Linked DNA regions of Homo sapiens: regions 1 and 3 are each linked to region 2. The links come from fine-mapping of genetic effects on gene expression. A gene starts in region 2. Each other region holds a variant in brackets. All regions are shown on one strand. Distances are between the middles of the regions.

The links. PIP is the estimated chance that this variant, and not a neighbour inherited with it, causes the effect.
Region 1: its variant is the best candidate, but not a certain one, in a credible set for the expression of ANOS1 in testis (GTEx, PIP 0.63).
Region 3: its variant is the best candidate, but not a certain one, in a credible set for the expression of ANOS1 in spleen (GTEx, PIP 0.63).

What each region holds. Positions count from the first base shown.
Region 1 is chrX:8,663,279-8,668,505 of GRCh38, reverse strand. The region is part of intron 2 of ANOS1 (anosmin 1); the gene reads left to right. Among named protein-coding and RNA genes, the nearest start is that of ANOS1, 66 kb to the left of the region's middle. The variant T/A (reference allele first, on the strand shown) is at 2,105.
Region 2 is chrX:8,728,933-8,734,159 of GRCh38, reverse strand. ANOS1 (anosmin 1) reads left to right here and starts at 2,023. Exons shown (of 14, transcript NM_000216.4): 1 at 2,023-2,330. The coding sequence starts at 2,124. RefSeq lists an enhancer at 5,117-5,227.
Region 3 is chrX:8,653,020-8,658,246 of GRCh38, reverse strand. All of the region lies in intron 2 of ANOS1 (anosmin 1), which reads left to right. Among named protein-coding and RNA genes, the nearest start is that of ANOS1, 77 kb to the left of the region's middle. The variant A/G (reference allele first, on the strand shown) is at 2,099.

The DNA of each region.
Region 1 (5,227 bases), 66 kb after region 2:
GGAATACCATATATATATATGGACTATCATATATGTATATGATGGAATACCATATATATATATGTATGTGTGTGTATATATATATATATATATATATATATATATATATATGATGGAATACTATTCAGCCATAAAAAGGAATGAATTAATGGCATTTGCAGCAACCTGGATGAGATTAGAAACTATTATTCTAAGTGAAGTAACTCAGGAATGGAAAACTAAACATCATATATTCTCACTCCTAAGTGGGAGCTAAGCTATGAGGATGCAAAAGCATAATAATGACATAATGGACTTTGTGGATTCGGGGAAAGGGTGAGAAGGGGGTGAGGGATAAAAGGCTACAAATTGGGTTCAGTGTATACTGCTCGGGTGATGGGTGCACCAAAATCTCACAAATCACCACTAAAGAACTTACTCATGTAACCAAATACCACCTGTTCCCCAATAACCTATGGAAATAAAAAAAAAATTTAAAAATACCTTAAATACGCCTGACACTTGACACTCGTCAGCATTTTGCAGTCACTCAGACCTCATTGCACTTCTACAAAATAGTTATTCCTCTTTTCTCATTATGCATATGGGGAAGGCAAGAGTGACAAGATTCTAATCCAGTCCATCTGGCTCTACAATTCATGCTCTCAGCTCCCCCACTCTCCTAATCCTCCACAGCCATACTCTTACCCTTCTCGGCCAGGCAGGATTTGGGAGAATGTCTTCTAAAAACACACTACTCCTTTCTGGTATTGGGCCACTAAATCCCTTACCTTACTCTACCTTACCTTACTCCTTCTAAGAAGCAACCCCCATACGGCTGATGATATTTTATCTCCAGTAGACCTCACAGGGTCTGAAATGAACAAAGGGTGTGTGACCCACATTACAGTCAACACTTCGTCTCTTGCCCACTGTGCAAGCCCCGGCCCACAGTGGTTTTCATTCTCTGGAACTCTGCTTTTCTATTTAAAATGTGGAGTGATTTGATGAGATGGTTTCCTCTGTTTTTGTCTAAAATTAAGGATGAAGTTCTAAAACTTGAATGAAGCTCGCACAGTGGTGCACACCTTTAATTCCGGGTACTCTGGAGGCTGAAGCAGGAGGGTTGCTTAAGCCCAGGAGTTTGAGTCCATGCTGGCCAACATAGCAAGGCTCTGTCTCAAGAAAACAACCAACTCCCCACCCCCATCCCCCCGCAAAAAACAAACAAACAAACAAACAAAAGCTTTATGGAAATTAGAGAAGAGTTTCATTTGTCCAGTACGGGAAGGCTTGAATATCCAGTCAAACCAATGTAAACTCAATTCCTCCACTTTTTAGACTTGAATGTTGTGGTGCTAGAATTTTAAGGAGAAATTTCAGCAGCTCTGAGCACCTGATGGGACAGCCTTGGGTGAAAGCATCAGGAGGACAGAGTTTATAATTTCTAACACCTATGGAGTTCTATACTATTCAGCCCAAGCCATGGGTAATGGCTGGCCTAAAAATGAAACTTTTTCATAGTCAAATTAGCCTAGAGCAGGGTATATTTTCTCCCTGGCTATTCCTACTGCTGATACTTGGTGTATTTGTTTGGGGCAGTTTCCCCTCATGGGGTGATGTTGTCTGGGCCCCCCTCAACCTCATCCTGGGGCATACAAGGTGAAGTGAGTTGTGTGAGAGTCAAAATTTCCAGTTATGAAGAAGCCTGGAGACGAGGAGGAAATGCAAAGTTGAAGGGGACTTATCAGCGCCGATGTCAATGTCCACATTTTGGATGGACGCCACAGTTTCATTTAGTACAAAAACAGTCTGTCCATTTTTGCTTCTTGGGCATGTGGGGAATGTGGAGCATTTTTCCTCTGAAGGTCATCCCTGTGTCTGAGATACCATTTCATGACTTTGGGGATATATCAATTTAGCTTTTTCAGTGTTCATTGTAACCAACTAAGAAGATGCTTCAACACATTGAAAGTTACAACGGGAAAACTTACAATGTTGCAGATTTTATGACTCCATTGTGTGTGTATATGTATTTATTTTCTCTCAGGCTCCAGGAACCTTATTTCATTTTTTATTATGACATTTATGATATAGGGAAAATAATCTAATACTGGTTGGGGAG[T/A]TGTTGAATTGATAATAGTGAAAATGTAAACATTCTTAACCTCTTTCTATTTCCTTTATTTTCCCTATAACCGTGTTATTCTTTAGAATTTGTTAAATACAACAAAGGGGACTCTTCATACTGGTAAATATACATCAAAGATTATATAATAAGGTTAAAATTTGGGATTTTTTTCTTTTCTTTTATTAGTATCATATTTGTTTTTAGAGACAGGTTGTTGCTCTGTCACCTGGGCTAGAGTCCAGTGGCGTGATTGTAGCTCACTGCAGCCTTGAACTCCTGGCCTCAAGCGATCCTCCTGCCTCAGCCTTGGGACTACAGGTGCATACCACCATGTCCAGCTAATTAATTTTTTTTTTCTTTGAAGAGACAAGATCTTGCTATGTCTCCCAGGCTGGTCTTGAACCCCTGGGGTCAAGCAATCCTCCTGCCTCAGCCTCCCAAAGCTCAAGCATCATAGGTGTTGGCCACCAAGTCTGGTCTTTCTCTTCCCTTTCTTTTTAAAAAATGGGGCATGGAGGACTTGGAGTAAAGAAATGCCAACGTTTTAAATGTTAAAGAATATCATCCAAAGTAATTTGCTTTGCTAAAATAATCATGGTGGATATTGCCACCATTATCTCTTAAGTTATTGAAGGTCAACTTAACTGATTGTTTTATTTTCCAATACTAGTAACTTATATAAAAGGAGAATTTAAAAAATGTTTAAGTGAATTGGGTCCCCAACATCTCAGCACCTGCAATATTTACATCCATACTGAGTAGTCTTAATAATGAAATATTTTGATGTTTTAGAGTTCAACAATTGTCTTTATGAGCATGAGAAAAGCAGTACACACCCATTCAAAATACGTAAAGAATGGAAATAGTTGGAGGGAAAAAATGTTACCCATATATCTACCACCTAGCTATTAGCATTGGACAGTATTACCTTCCACTATTTTTTTCCAAGATTAGAAAAGTCTTTTGTATTAACAAGACCTTTTGACTAGTGATTGAGTTAGGGAGTGCAATATCTCACCTCTGAAGTACAACTCTGTGACAGATCAGCCTGGGCACTGCCAGGCACTTCTTTCTTTATGCAGTTAGTAATTTACTTTCTGTTTTAAGGCAGAGCTTTATCTTCTTATTTGTGTGTTGTCACTATGGACTCATGGGTTCTGAAGTATTGAAATGGGTTGGAATCCATTCCCACCATTATTTGTTTTGATATCCAGTTTGTCAAGGTTTGACTTGTGGGGAATTTTGAAGCACACTGCTGCGTCCGTTGGATGAGTGCCTGTCATTCTGGGAGCACGTCCCGCCTTTGCAGCATGACGGGATGCTTCAGGCTTGTCTTGTCGTTCTCTTGCTCATGCCTGAGATCAACTCTATCTCAGAGGGGTCCTGGGGACGCTTTGTTCATCATTTTGTGTGCCTGCTTATACAGTGTTCACAAGAGAGCCCTGGGGGAGACGATATGCATAAAAACATCTGCTTATGCGGACCTGTGAAATTGTGCCCCAAAAGCCATAATCACTGAGTTCTTCAAAAAGAGAAATGGTGCTAGAGAAAGAATGCAGAAGAGCCTGTGATGGAGGCAGAGACACCACCGTGGCTGCTCTTCTTTCTTGCCCTCTGTGCCTGTTGAGATTTTACCAGGAGGAGAAACCTATCTGCAGAGACCGTGGGGTACCCTTGTGTCAGCAGGCTCTCCTCTTAACTTACACCTTATTTGGTTTTAGCCTTGCAAATCAAGTTCATCAAGGGAGGGTGAATTTGTTTATGGAAAAGGCTCAACTGAAAGGGTAAAGGGGTGTGTGTGTATGTGTGTGTGTGCATGCACGCATACATTTATTTTGTAGTGGCTGGAATTTCTGTATTGCTGTTCCAGAGGCTACAAAGTACCATATTAAAAAAAAAAATCCCTGGCCGGGGGCGGTGGCTCACACCTGTAATCCCAGCACTTTGGGAGGCCAAGGTGGGCGGATCACGAGGTCAGGAGATTGAGACCATCCTGGCTAACATGGTGAAACCCCGTCTCTACTAAAAAAATACAAAAAAATTAGCCGGGCGTGGTGGCGCACTCCTGTAGTCCCAGCTACTCGGGAGGCTGAGGCAGGAGAATGGCGTGAACCCGGGAGGCAGAGCTTGCAGTGAGCCAAGATCGCGCCACTGCACTCCGGCCTGGGCGACAGAGTGAGACTCCATCTCAGAAAACAAACAAACAAAGTTTATTTTATGTTCTGGGATACATGTGCAGGACGTGCAGATTTGTTACGTAGGTAAACATGTGCCATGATGGTTTGTCGCACCTATCAACCCATCACCTATGCATTAGCTATTTATCCTGATGTTCTCCCTTCCCCCACCCCTTTGACAGGCCCCAGTGTGTGTTCCCCTCCCTGTGTCCATGTGTTCTCATTGTTCAGCTCTCACTTATAAGTGAGAACATGCAGGGTTTGGTTTTCTGCTCCTGTGTTAGTTTGCTGAGGCTCCCAGCTCCACCCACGTCCCTGCAAAGGACATGATCTCTTTTTATGGCTACATAGTATTCTATGGTGCATATGTACTACATTTTCTTTATCCAGTTTATCATTGATGGGCATTGGATTGATTCCATGTAATGTAATAATTTTATTAGAAAAGGTGGATCCTGGGATTAGTGGTTGATTGGTGGAAGGAAAGGGAAGGTATGGAAAGTCCTTGGGCAGGCATAGTTACCTCTTCACAGTACTTCATGGATCACATTCAGAGGGAGTTAGTAGGAAACACAAGATAGAAATTCAGGCCATGATGTCAGCAAGCTTTGTTCTGGGCAGGCTCCAGTTGGATCTATTGGTTCCAACTGATTTCAGCCAGTTTTGTTATCTTACAAGCATAGGGAGTTTCAGCATTTCAGCAGGTTGTTTCTTTTCTTATCTACCATCCTGCAAACTCAAGAATTTCTGTTAGTCATTGGTTTCTTTAACTCCTCGGGGCACAGTTTCAATAGGAGTCAGCAAACTACTGCCTGCAGCCCAAATCTGCCCTGCTACCTATTTTTGTATGGCTCATGAGCTAAGAATGGGTTTTGCATTTTTAAATGATGAAAAAAAAATCCAAAGAAACAGAATGTTTTTTGACACATGAAAATTATATGCA
Region 2 (5,227 bases):
TATGTTTAACATACTTAAAAAATATTTCCATTTGCAATTCTGAGCAATTTTAAAACAAATCATTGAAGTCGTGTAAGCTTATGCCAAAATTACTAGGTTTCCAGCCCAAGTAAAGAGTGGCCCCAACCTTTTTGGCACCAGGGACTGGTTTCATGGAAGACAATTTTTCCATGGACCTGGGGGTAGCAAGTGATGGCTTGGGGATGAAACTGCTCCATCTCAGATCGACATTAGATTCTCATAAGGAGTGCGCTACCTAGACATCTCGCATGCATAGTTCACTATAGGACTGAAGCTCCTATCAGAATCTAATGCTGCCACTGATTTCTCACCTGAGGCACAGCTCAGGCAGTAATGTTCCCTGGCCTGCCGCGGCCCAGTTCCTAACAGGCCACTGTCATTGTGAAGAGTTTCAGGATGGTGATGGCAGAACAGGCCTTCTAAGAGTGCGACTGTACCATTGTACAGCTTGCATGTCCATGAAACTGGCTTTGCCTATAGAACCTTTTGAACAAGATGACCCTGATTTTCTAATTCGCTGAGAAACACACCAAGGCCAATTAATTTGACTGGCCTTTCTGATTTAAGCTATGTGAAGAAATACACATGTAAGATGATGTATTTGAAAAGCACTCATAATAGGATAGCTGCAGATGGCTGTCATTGCAATTTGTTAACAGGCAGATCTCAAAATTGCAGAGTGGAACCTGTGTATAAGAATAGGGAAAAGGGTGGGAAATTGCAAAACAACTATATAGGCTTTGTGCAAAGAGGATTCCAGCCTTCTGATGTAGCTTTGAGTAGAGCGAGTGCATCTAGATACCCTGACTGTGCTTAGCTGGGTGCTTATAGAGATCCCGTTTTCGAAGGTGAAAGTGCAATTGGGTAGGAGAGGGTGGAGATGTCAGAGCAAAGGAACAGCAGTCAGTTGTTGTCCATTCGAATAGGAGTGTGCCTGGGTCTTTTTTCTCTGGGCTCTCCTACCTGCAAGGGGACTGTCACTTCCTGATGGGGCTCAGGGGAGTGTAGAGCTTTGTTACAAGTTGTGTCTTATCAATGCCTCCTGTCTTTCTGTGGCAGGATCCTGGCTGGGGAGGGAGAATTTGTGTGCTGAGAGAACACTAGACAAAAACGACAGGAGAGGACGGAGCAGCCATTCCAAAGCTAAAAAGCCTGAGTCAAGAGGCTCGGGCAAATCGTGGGGAAAGAAAGAGATTAAGACGCAAGTCTATTTAGAATAAATCACTCACTTTGGGGCGTGCAAGGCTTACTAGAAAAACAGACACCTGAGGAAACAAGGCGTGTGGACCTAAAGGTGGTTAGCTATGCACTGAGACTGTCTCCAGGGAAAACAGTGCGGGAGGGAGGGAGGGAGGGATGCGGGAAGGACGGAAGAAATGCAAGAGGGAGAGAAGGAGGAATTTGTCTCCGGGACACTGTAGGGCAAATGTCCACGCTCCCCTCCCCGTCTGTCTTACTGCCATTTGTTTTCTTCACTTCTTTCCACTACCTGGGCAAAGGAAATTCGAATATGTGAAAGCGTGGGAAAAGCCTGGACCCAGGGGAGGTCGGGGAGAAAGCAAGCCACTTAGGGGCGCGGGGTCAATCCCCAGGCAGGTGGGACGCCCCTGGGGGTCCTGAGGCCTCTTCCCTCCTGCTGAAGGGAGCACCCCTCCTGGCAGGCCTGGACCTGCTCACACCGACGTTTACCTGGACGGAGGGGGAAGGTGGGAGGGGCAGGAAGCGGTTGGTGCGAACGGGAGAGGCGCCTGCGTGGGAGCTGGGCCCCTCGAGACCTGCGCGGCGTGGAAAGCCGCTCGGCGTCGCCCTCCCCCGGAGCGCCCGGGCTCGCAGCTGACGAGACCGGCCCATGGGCCCTGCGCCCGGCCCCCCTGTCACTCACACGCCTTCCAGCCAATGGTGCGGCCTCCTGTCCCCCTCACCCCACCCCTCGAGGGCGAGCTGGGAGGGAGGTCGGCGAGGAGGGTCCGGCCGGAGTTGAAGGATTGAACTTTCCGGCTCAGTCGCGGCGTCTGCCTGGTCCTCAGCAGTGCAGCCCCGGCGCGGAGCAGGGAGCCTCGGCCCGCGCCCGGCGCCCTCGCCCTCGCCCTCGACCCGCAGCCATGGTGCCCGGGGTGCCCGGCGCGGTCCTGACCCTCTGCCTCTGGCTGGCGGCCTCCAGCGGCTGCCTGGCGGCCGGCCCCGGCGCGGCTGCTGCGCGGCGGCTGGACGAGTCGCTGTCTGCCGGGAGCGTCCAGCGCGCTCGCTGCGCCTCCAGGTGCCTGAGCCTGCAGATCACTCGCATCTCCGCCTTCTTCCAGCACTTCCAGGTACGGGGAGGCCCCCGCCCGGGTTCTTTCTGGGGCTGCGGCCGCGGCGTGGGCGCACCGGGGCGCGCGCCTCCCAGCCTGGGCTCGCAAAGTTCTCGGCCAGCGCCGCCGGCTGATCCTGGCTTCCCCTGGGCGTGGATCTTACAGTCGGGGTGCTGGAACTCTCCTTTCCAGCCTCTTCCCGGCTCCTGAAAAGAAAAAGAAGCCCGAGACATCTTGCCCCAACTCCCTCCTTCCCAGCAGGAAACCAAAGGCGATTTCCCTGGGGAGGGAGAGTCGTGGATGCTGGGAGTGGGTGTGTGGATGTGGCGGTTTCCCGGGAATTGGAGTGCGCGAGACTCCGGGCGGGCGGCGACTCCCGCAAAGTCCCAGGCGCTCCGGGGCACTGGGAGGGAGTCTGGGAGGCGCGTCCGGCTGCGCCTGGGGACCTCACCTCGAGCCCCAGCCCCGCAGGTGCCCGCGGGCCGACACTTTGTCTCTTTTGAAAGATGGTTTTCACTCTCTGAGGGCTCAGAGCTCGCTGCCCACCCTTGGAGCCCCAGCCAGGGTACTTGTGCCAAGTCGTGTTCCAGGGTGCGTGTATGCGCGTGTTGGGGGTGCGAGTGGCTGTGCGCGCCTCAATTCGGAACCCCAAAGATTCAAGGTCTTGCCCTGGACTAGCGTAGAGCGTCAGGGAAGAAGTGCCGGGGACAGGGGATTTGGCGGGGCCGTATTCGGATACTCCTCAACGAGTCCCGGGGGAACCGTCCCCCAAACCCCGAACGTAGGTTCTTTCAGCCTGAGGGTGGGGAGTATGTGTGTGTGCGCGCGCGCTTGTGTGGGAGGCTCCGGGAGCCGCGCGCTTGGCTCCAGCGGGTTGCCGGGACTCTGCCCTGTGGCGCGGACCCCCGCGGGACTTGCGCGAGGCTCCGGGTGCGGGTGGGCGCACGAGAGCAGGTTCCGGACTCAGCGCGAGCGAGTGCAGCTGCTGCCTGTACCAGCCCTGTCGAGCGTGCGAGCTCTGAAATCCTCCGCTTATTTTTCTCTTCTCTCATCCTTCTCTCCTTCTTCTTCTCGCCTCTATCCCTAGGTGCCCACCTGTTCCAAGTTCCCAATTTCTCGCTTCAGGGAAACTCTGGAGGGACCAAAAGGAGAAATGGGGGCTGGGGGGAGGGGTTCCCCTGGCTGGGCGGGAACTGGAAGCCAAACCCTTGGCTCTTAAACTGGGCGCCCCTCCTGCCAGAGCTGGGTCAAGGGGTGGGGGGGGGGGTCCCCCTAGAGGCCCTGGGAATTAAGCTGCCAGAGGAGGCCATATTAATAAGGGTGGAATGTGGAAGTGATTCCCCTTACCCTCGGGGATGATCTTGAACCGGCTGGTGAAGCTGGCGCGTTCGCGAGTGTGCAGTTGAGTTTGTTCTAAGTCGTAGAAGCAGCGTCTCGTGGGTGTCAGAGAAATGGGCACGCTCTGTAGTCCTTCTGCGTCTTCAGGGAATGGAAGACCCAGTGCTCACCTCCTGTGGTGAAATTACCCAGACATCCTGGACAGAGCCAGGAGAGGGCCGATCCCCAGGCACCTGGTTTCCAGCCCTCCGAGTCCTACCCTGAAAGTCACTCTCCTAAGATGCCACACTATTGTTTGAAACAACAGAAAACAAAACAAAACGGAGCAGCCTATTCCCAGGGAGAAAGAGTACCTTTTTTTTTTCTTTTTCTTGAATTGTCAGTGCTGTAATTTATTTGTTTTACAGTTTCAGTGGCTAAAGCACCAGCTTAGATGAAGCCAGTTCCCGTGAAAGGCTTTTCTTGTGGTCTCCTTGGCATGATTTCTCTTTGGAAGAAAAACTGCTGACAGAATGCACATTGCTAGACAATCCTGATTACATTTTAATTAGCTGGGGGTGAAATAAGCTGCAAATTACTCAGTTAAGACTTAATAAGTGCTGTGTTTGTAATCAATTGCAAAGCCATTCTGGGAGCCTTAACCCTAACCTGGTAATGCCTATCTGATTTATCTAAATTGCAGGGATTAAGTGTTTTTAAGATCTGAAAAGCCAGCAACACATTCTCCTTATAAAACCCCAAGCTTCCCTGTTCCCCACCGCTTGCCTTCCTTTTTTTTTTTTTTTTTTTTTTTTTTTAATAATTAGAAGGAAGATGGGCCGGGCGCAGTGGCTCATGCCTCTAATCCCTGCACTTTGGGAGGCCAAGGCGGGCAGATCATTTGAGGTCAGGAGTTTGAGACCAGCCTGGCCAACTTGAAATCCCGTCTCTACAAAAAATACAAAAATTAGCCTGGTGTAGTGGTGCATGCTGTAGTCCCAGCTACTCAGGAGGCTGAGGGAGGAGAATCCTTGAACCCGGGAGGCAGCGGTTGCAGTGAGCCGAGATCACACCACTGCACTCCAGCCTGGGTGACAGAGCAAGACTGTCTCAAAAAAAAAAAAAAAAAAAAAAAAAAAGGAAGGAAGGTGGAGCAATCAGTCTGCAGACAACTCATGACTGGGCTACGGGAAGTCTTAAGAAGATTGCTTTCCTACAGGGTCACCCCCGCCCCCAACTCCTGCAAATGAGCCCACCCATAAAGCTGTCTCTGGAGCAGGTGCCTGTTTCCATCTTCTCTTGCACGGTTTCAGGCCATGTTTAAGGATGGGAGAAGCTTGCCTGGCCTCCAGCCTGGATGCCCGCCAGGTATGTGGACTCTCAATTATGAAAGCTGTCAGGCCTTGCCTCAGGAGAGCGCAACCTATGCACTCATGGTGTAGGCAGTGACACAGATTCCCTGGGGCAGTGACCTGCTGTCGTCGGCCTGCAGAGGAAGCTGTCGTCTCATAGTCTGTGCCCCAGTTGTCCCCACTGTCCTCCACTGCCCAGCCCTTCAGCAACAAGACAGAAAAGCAGTGGGTAGATGTGCACACCTG
Region 3 (5,227 bases), 76 kb after region 2:
AGAAAGCAAGAGGCACCAGGGCATATCTGAGGCATTAGAAATAGCTGAGCTCATGCAGTAGGGCATTAACCATGTCCCTTCCATGGTGCTTGCCAATACATTGAGCACCCACAGCTCTTTCTGCTGCATCTGCCACTCTCTATCTGAGAACTTGCTCATAGTGTGGAAACTTCCCTATTCTGACTGAGAAGCAGGCTAGAGGTACTGGGAGTTAATGCCCTCGGGAACTGCCCTCAAGTGCCAATAGACAGGAGGTAGTAGATGAGAAATACCATGGCTTCCCTGTCACTTGAGAAGGAGAACAGACTCCCAGTGGTTCCCAGTGCAGGTGACCCCCAGGTACTCAGAGCATAAAGCATTACCTTAGTGTACCCTGGACTCCCTTCTGTCCCCTGCCTCACTCCCCTTCTTCCTTATTCTCCATCTTAGGATCATGTAAAACCAGACTGTGCCAACCTCTGAGGTTAAGAGCATAGTCCTGGCTGGGTGCGGTGGCTCATGCCTGTAATCCCAGCACTTTGGGAGGCTGAGGCAGGCGGATCACAAGGTCAGGAGATCAAGACCAGCCTGACCAACATGGTAAAACCCCATCTCTACTAAAAATACAAAAATCTGTTTGGCGTGGTGGCACGTGCCTGTAATCCCAGCTACTCAGGAGGCTGAGGCAGGAGAGTCGCTTGAACCCGGGAGGCAGAGGTTGCAGTGAGCTGGTATCGTGCCACTGCACTCCAGCCTGGGCGACAGAGCAAGACTCCGTAAAAAAAAAAAAAAAAAAAAAAGCAAGCACAGTCCTCCAAATTGCCAAGTATGTTCAAGATGTCTGCCCAACCACAAGTTCAGCATTTCTCAAAACCACCCTCAGGTTTCACAATTTGCTAAAAATACCCCCAGGATTCACTGCAGGCTATTATGCTAAGGCTCACGTCTATTACAGGGATATGATCTGAATCTGAACCAGCCAAAAGAGGAGTTCACAGGGTAGAGTCTAGGGGAATTCCCAATGCGAAGCTTCCATTGTTTTCAGGATGCATTTCCACACATGGTAGGATGCACGAAATATCACCCACGTGGGAAGTCACCTGAGCTCAAGTGTCCAGAGTTTTTACTGAGGCTTCATGCCGTAGGCATGATTGATCGAGCCATGACCCGTGTGGTTAAAATCAATCTCTGCCTGCCCCCTTCCCACTTCTCTGGAGATTGGGCTCATACCAATTGGCCTGGAGGGGCTCTACCAGGTGCCTCCTAACTAGCAAAAACTAACAGGCATGGTCCTAGGGGCACCATGAATAACAAAGACACCTACCACTCAGGACATCCCAAGTTTAGAGATTGCCTCCCAGGGGTAGGGACAACAGATCTCTCTTTGAGTGAGATCAGATTTCTTACTGCACAGACTCCCTCAGCATGTGTCTGGGGAACCTGAGGTACTGGCTCATTGGGGGAACATATGGTCATCTGAGGGTGAACGCCAAGAGCCTCACATCGGGAGTTGAGCTTTTCAAGTCATGTATGGCGTTGAGAACTGTGTTCCAAAGAGCCTGGACTTTGCAGAACAGGGATCCATGCCATGCAGAAAGGTACTGGCTTCCATGGGAAGAACCAATTTGTAGAGACTCAGGAGGCAGGGAGATGGGTAAGAAGATATTTGCAATGATTGCAATAACTTCAGTAGAAAAGCTTAGCAACTTAGACGAGGATGAATGAGTGGCTCAGGGCATAAAGGAAAATGGAAAGTCTGCCCCAAAGGATGAGGGCAGTAAAGGTTCCAAGCAGCTGGATGGACAGGGTATGGCTGACTCGTATCATGAAAGGTAGGTGCCTTAAATATTGTTGGGCAAGACTCACAGGTATGTTTTTGTCCCCATGGTATTGACAAGAAAACTGAGGCAGAGAAAGGCTACACAATTTGCCAGGCTCCTAGGACATTTCACAACAAGGCATTCTAATGCATCAGCCTGTGCTTTTAACTATCACTGCTGGATCAAAGGTAGAGAGGCAACAGGTTTAGCCCTGCTTTGATATGAGGAAGGATTTTCTCCCAATTTGACACATTTGCGGGAATGCAGAAAGATGTCTTATGAAGTGGAGATGTGCAGGT[A/G]GTGGCTGGGTCAGATATTGTAGGCATAAAAATTGGGGCCTCTTTCAATTTTCTGATTCCTTAGCTCCATTCCTGATATTTACTGGCTGCTACCCTTGGCAAGGCCTAATGCTCGTGTGTGTGATAATGGTGTTGGGTATTGATTCTAGGATTCCTGGAATCAAAGAAACAATTCCACAGTTCTGCTTACTCCACTGATGTTTTGAGGGACTTGGACTGAATGACATACCATCAGATAAAATTACCTTCTCCAGTTTTTCCTAGCTGGGGAACTTTCTATGAGAGATGAGTTTGCTTTGTAATTGCTAGAGCCTTTGCTAATTGTATTAGAAGTGCTTTATAAGATAACAAAATAATAATTTGGGGGATCTCAGATTATTTCCAGAGGTCAGAGTTTTGCTGACAATTTCAGTTCATTTTAATAAACACTGATGAACATCAGCTATGTTCTAGGTCCTTGCTGCACTGTGGGGAGGAGGAGATAAATTAGACCAGGGGCTGGAAAATTATTTCTCTAAAGGGCCAGATGACAAGTGTCTTGGGCTTCCTGGGACAGAGTTGTCTCTGTTGCAACCACTCAGTGTGACGATGTAGCATGATTGTGGTGATGTGTCTCAAGTGTCCCCAATCCTAGGGCCTCGGACCCCTAATGGTCCATGGCCTGTTAGGAACCAGGCTACACAGCAGGAGGTGAGTGCTGGGTGAGCAAGCAAAGCTTATTCTGTATTTACAGCTACTCACCATGGCTCACATCACCACCTGAGCTCCGCCTCCTGTCAGATCAGTGGCAACATTAGGTTCTCATAGGAGTGCAAACAAACCCTGTTGTGAACTGCACATGTGAGGGATCTAGGTTGCAGGCTCCTTATGAGAATCTAATGCCTGATGATCTGTCACTGTCTCCCATCACCCCCAGATGGGACCGTCTAGTTTCAGGAAAACAAGCTCAGGGCTCACACTGATTCTACATCATGGTGAGTTTTATAATTATTTCATTATATATTACAATGTAATAATAATAGAAATAAAGTGCACAGTAAATGTAATGCTCTTGAATCATCCAGAAACCATTCTCCTCCTCCTCACCCAGTCCATGGAAAAAAAAAATATATTCCACAAAACCAGATCCTGGTGCTAAAAAGGTTGGGGACTGCTAATGTAGCTGACATAGCGTGAAAGCAGCCATAGATAATCTGGCAATGAATGGGCATGGCTACATCCCATTGAAACTTCGTGTTTGGACACTGATGTTTGATTTTCATATAATTATCAGGTGTTACAAAATATTATTTTTTTTCAACCATTTGAAAATTAAATATCACCATGGGGCTGTACAAAAGCAAATGTCAGAGTGGATTCATTTCCCAATGGGCTTAGCTTGCCAAACTTTGAATGAGACACCCGGCCCCTGATTTTAAGGAGCTGATAGACTATTCTAGAGCAGTGAACAGATGAGAAATCATGTCAACACACCGTACTGAGAGCCGTAGTCATGGGACAGGGAATCACAGGGTGGGCTCTTCATGAACTTTGCTTCTTGGAGACGTTAAAGGCTCTTTATGTTAAATTCTTTAGAAAGTGTACTGCTTCTACACTTGGTGAATAAAACGGAGATGAAAGCAAGAATCGAGGTTTGTAAAATCTGTGCTTGTAAAAAGACTTTTGTTTTATTTTAGTTCCCATGGTGGTGAATTTTTAGCAGTAGGTCAAAAACATATTTGGTTACTGAGATAAATATCTGTACAGGTGAATGGAATAGAGATAGACCTTCAAGAAAACCACAGCTTTCTTTTTTTCTTTTATGGAATTCTATTCCTTTGGAGCAGAGCACAGATTGTCTTTGCTGGGGAACATTCGTACTTAATTTTATTGGTTGCTTTTTGGTTACACATGTGGTTTGTTTATACTGAAGTATTGTGCCAGAATCATCTGCCCTCCTGATACAGACCTATGGGAGACATAAGACCAAATTTGGCTTCAAGAACCAGGGGAACAGGTTTAACGAAGGCAGTGTCAGCTCTAGCCCTGGGGCTGGATGGCTTGGAGTTGAGAGTAAAGACAGAGAAGGATCTGAGGCTCAAGCTGATATTCACAGCCATGAATTTTGTGTCTTTTAGGATCAGTGCCAAGGGATTTAGCTGGCTGGAGGGCTATAGCCATTTCAGTTCTGGTCACTACTGAATCCCTCAAATGTGGCATCATGCTTGCTACTCAATACAATTTAACATGAAAACAAAGTCATTGGCTTCTTTTCTGCAACCCCATGTCATGCTGTCTCCTTCTTCACTCATGCACTGGATATTTATTGAATACCTACTGTGTGCTGAAAGCTTTTATGGACTCTGGACCATAGGGTGAAAAGACAGACACATACCATGCCCACATGAAACTCCCTTCTAGCGTGAGACAGACAAAAAACGCAGTGAGCCAATTCAAGTACTGTGGTTAGTAAGGAGAACCAGGGAGAAAAATTGAGCCAGATAAGGGGAACTAGGGTTTGAGGAGGGTGTTTATTTTCCGACAAGTAAGGTAAAAAGGTCATGTGTATTTGTACACTTGAGCAGAAATCTGGAGGAAGTAAGGCAGAGATTGTAGGTATGTGGGGAAGTACTTTCAAGGTGGAGCCTACAGGATCTGCTGAAGGATTGAAATTGGGAGGAGAGAGGTCCAGGATGACTCCAAGGATGGAGGCACCACTTCACTTACTGGAGTAGATAACAAGAATCCACTATCTGGTTACTAGGCTCTCAGTCCAGGAACATTCAATCTAGGAGAGCATCCAAGCAAAATGACAGTGGGTTCATGTAGACCTGTTCCAATAGCTACAGGTTGAGCCCTATTTCTTCTTTCACCCCGAGATGACCAAATCTAAAGCAACTGCAATGAAGAGGTGAGCAGATGATAAAAGCAAGAACAAAAGAAACAGATCTTAGTGTGAGTGAGTGTGAGTATAATAATACTGAATTATACTCAGTATTCTAAGTAAGCATGATGGCTGGGCACAGTGGCTCATGCCTATAATACCAGCATTTTGGGAGGTTGAGGCGGGTGGATCACTTGAGACCAGGAGTTTGAGACCAGCCTGTCCAACGTGGTGAAACTCTGTCTCTACTAAAAATACAAAAATTA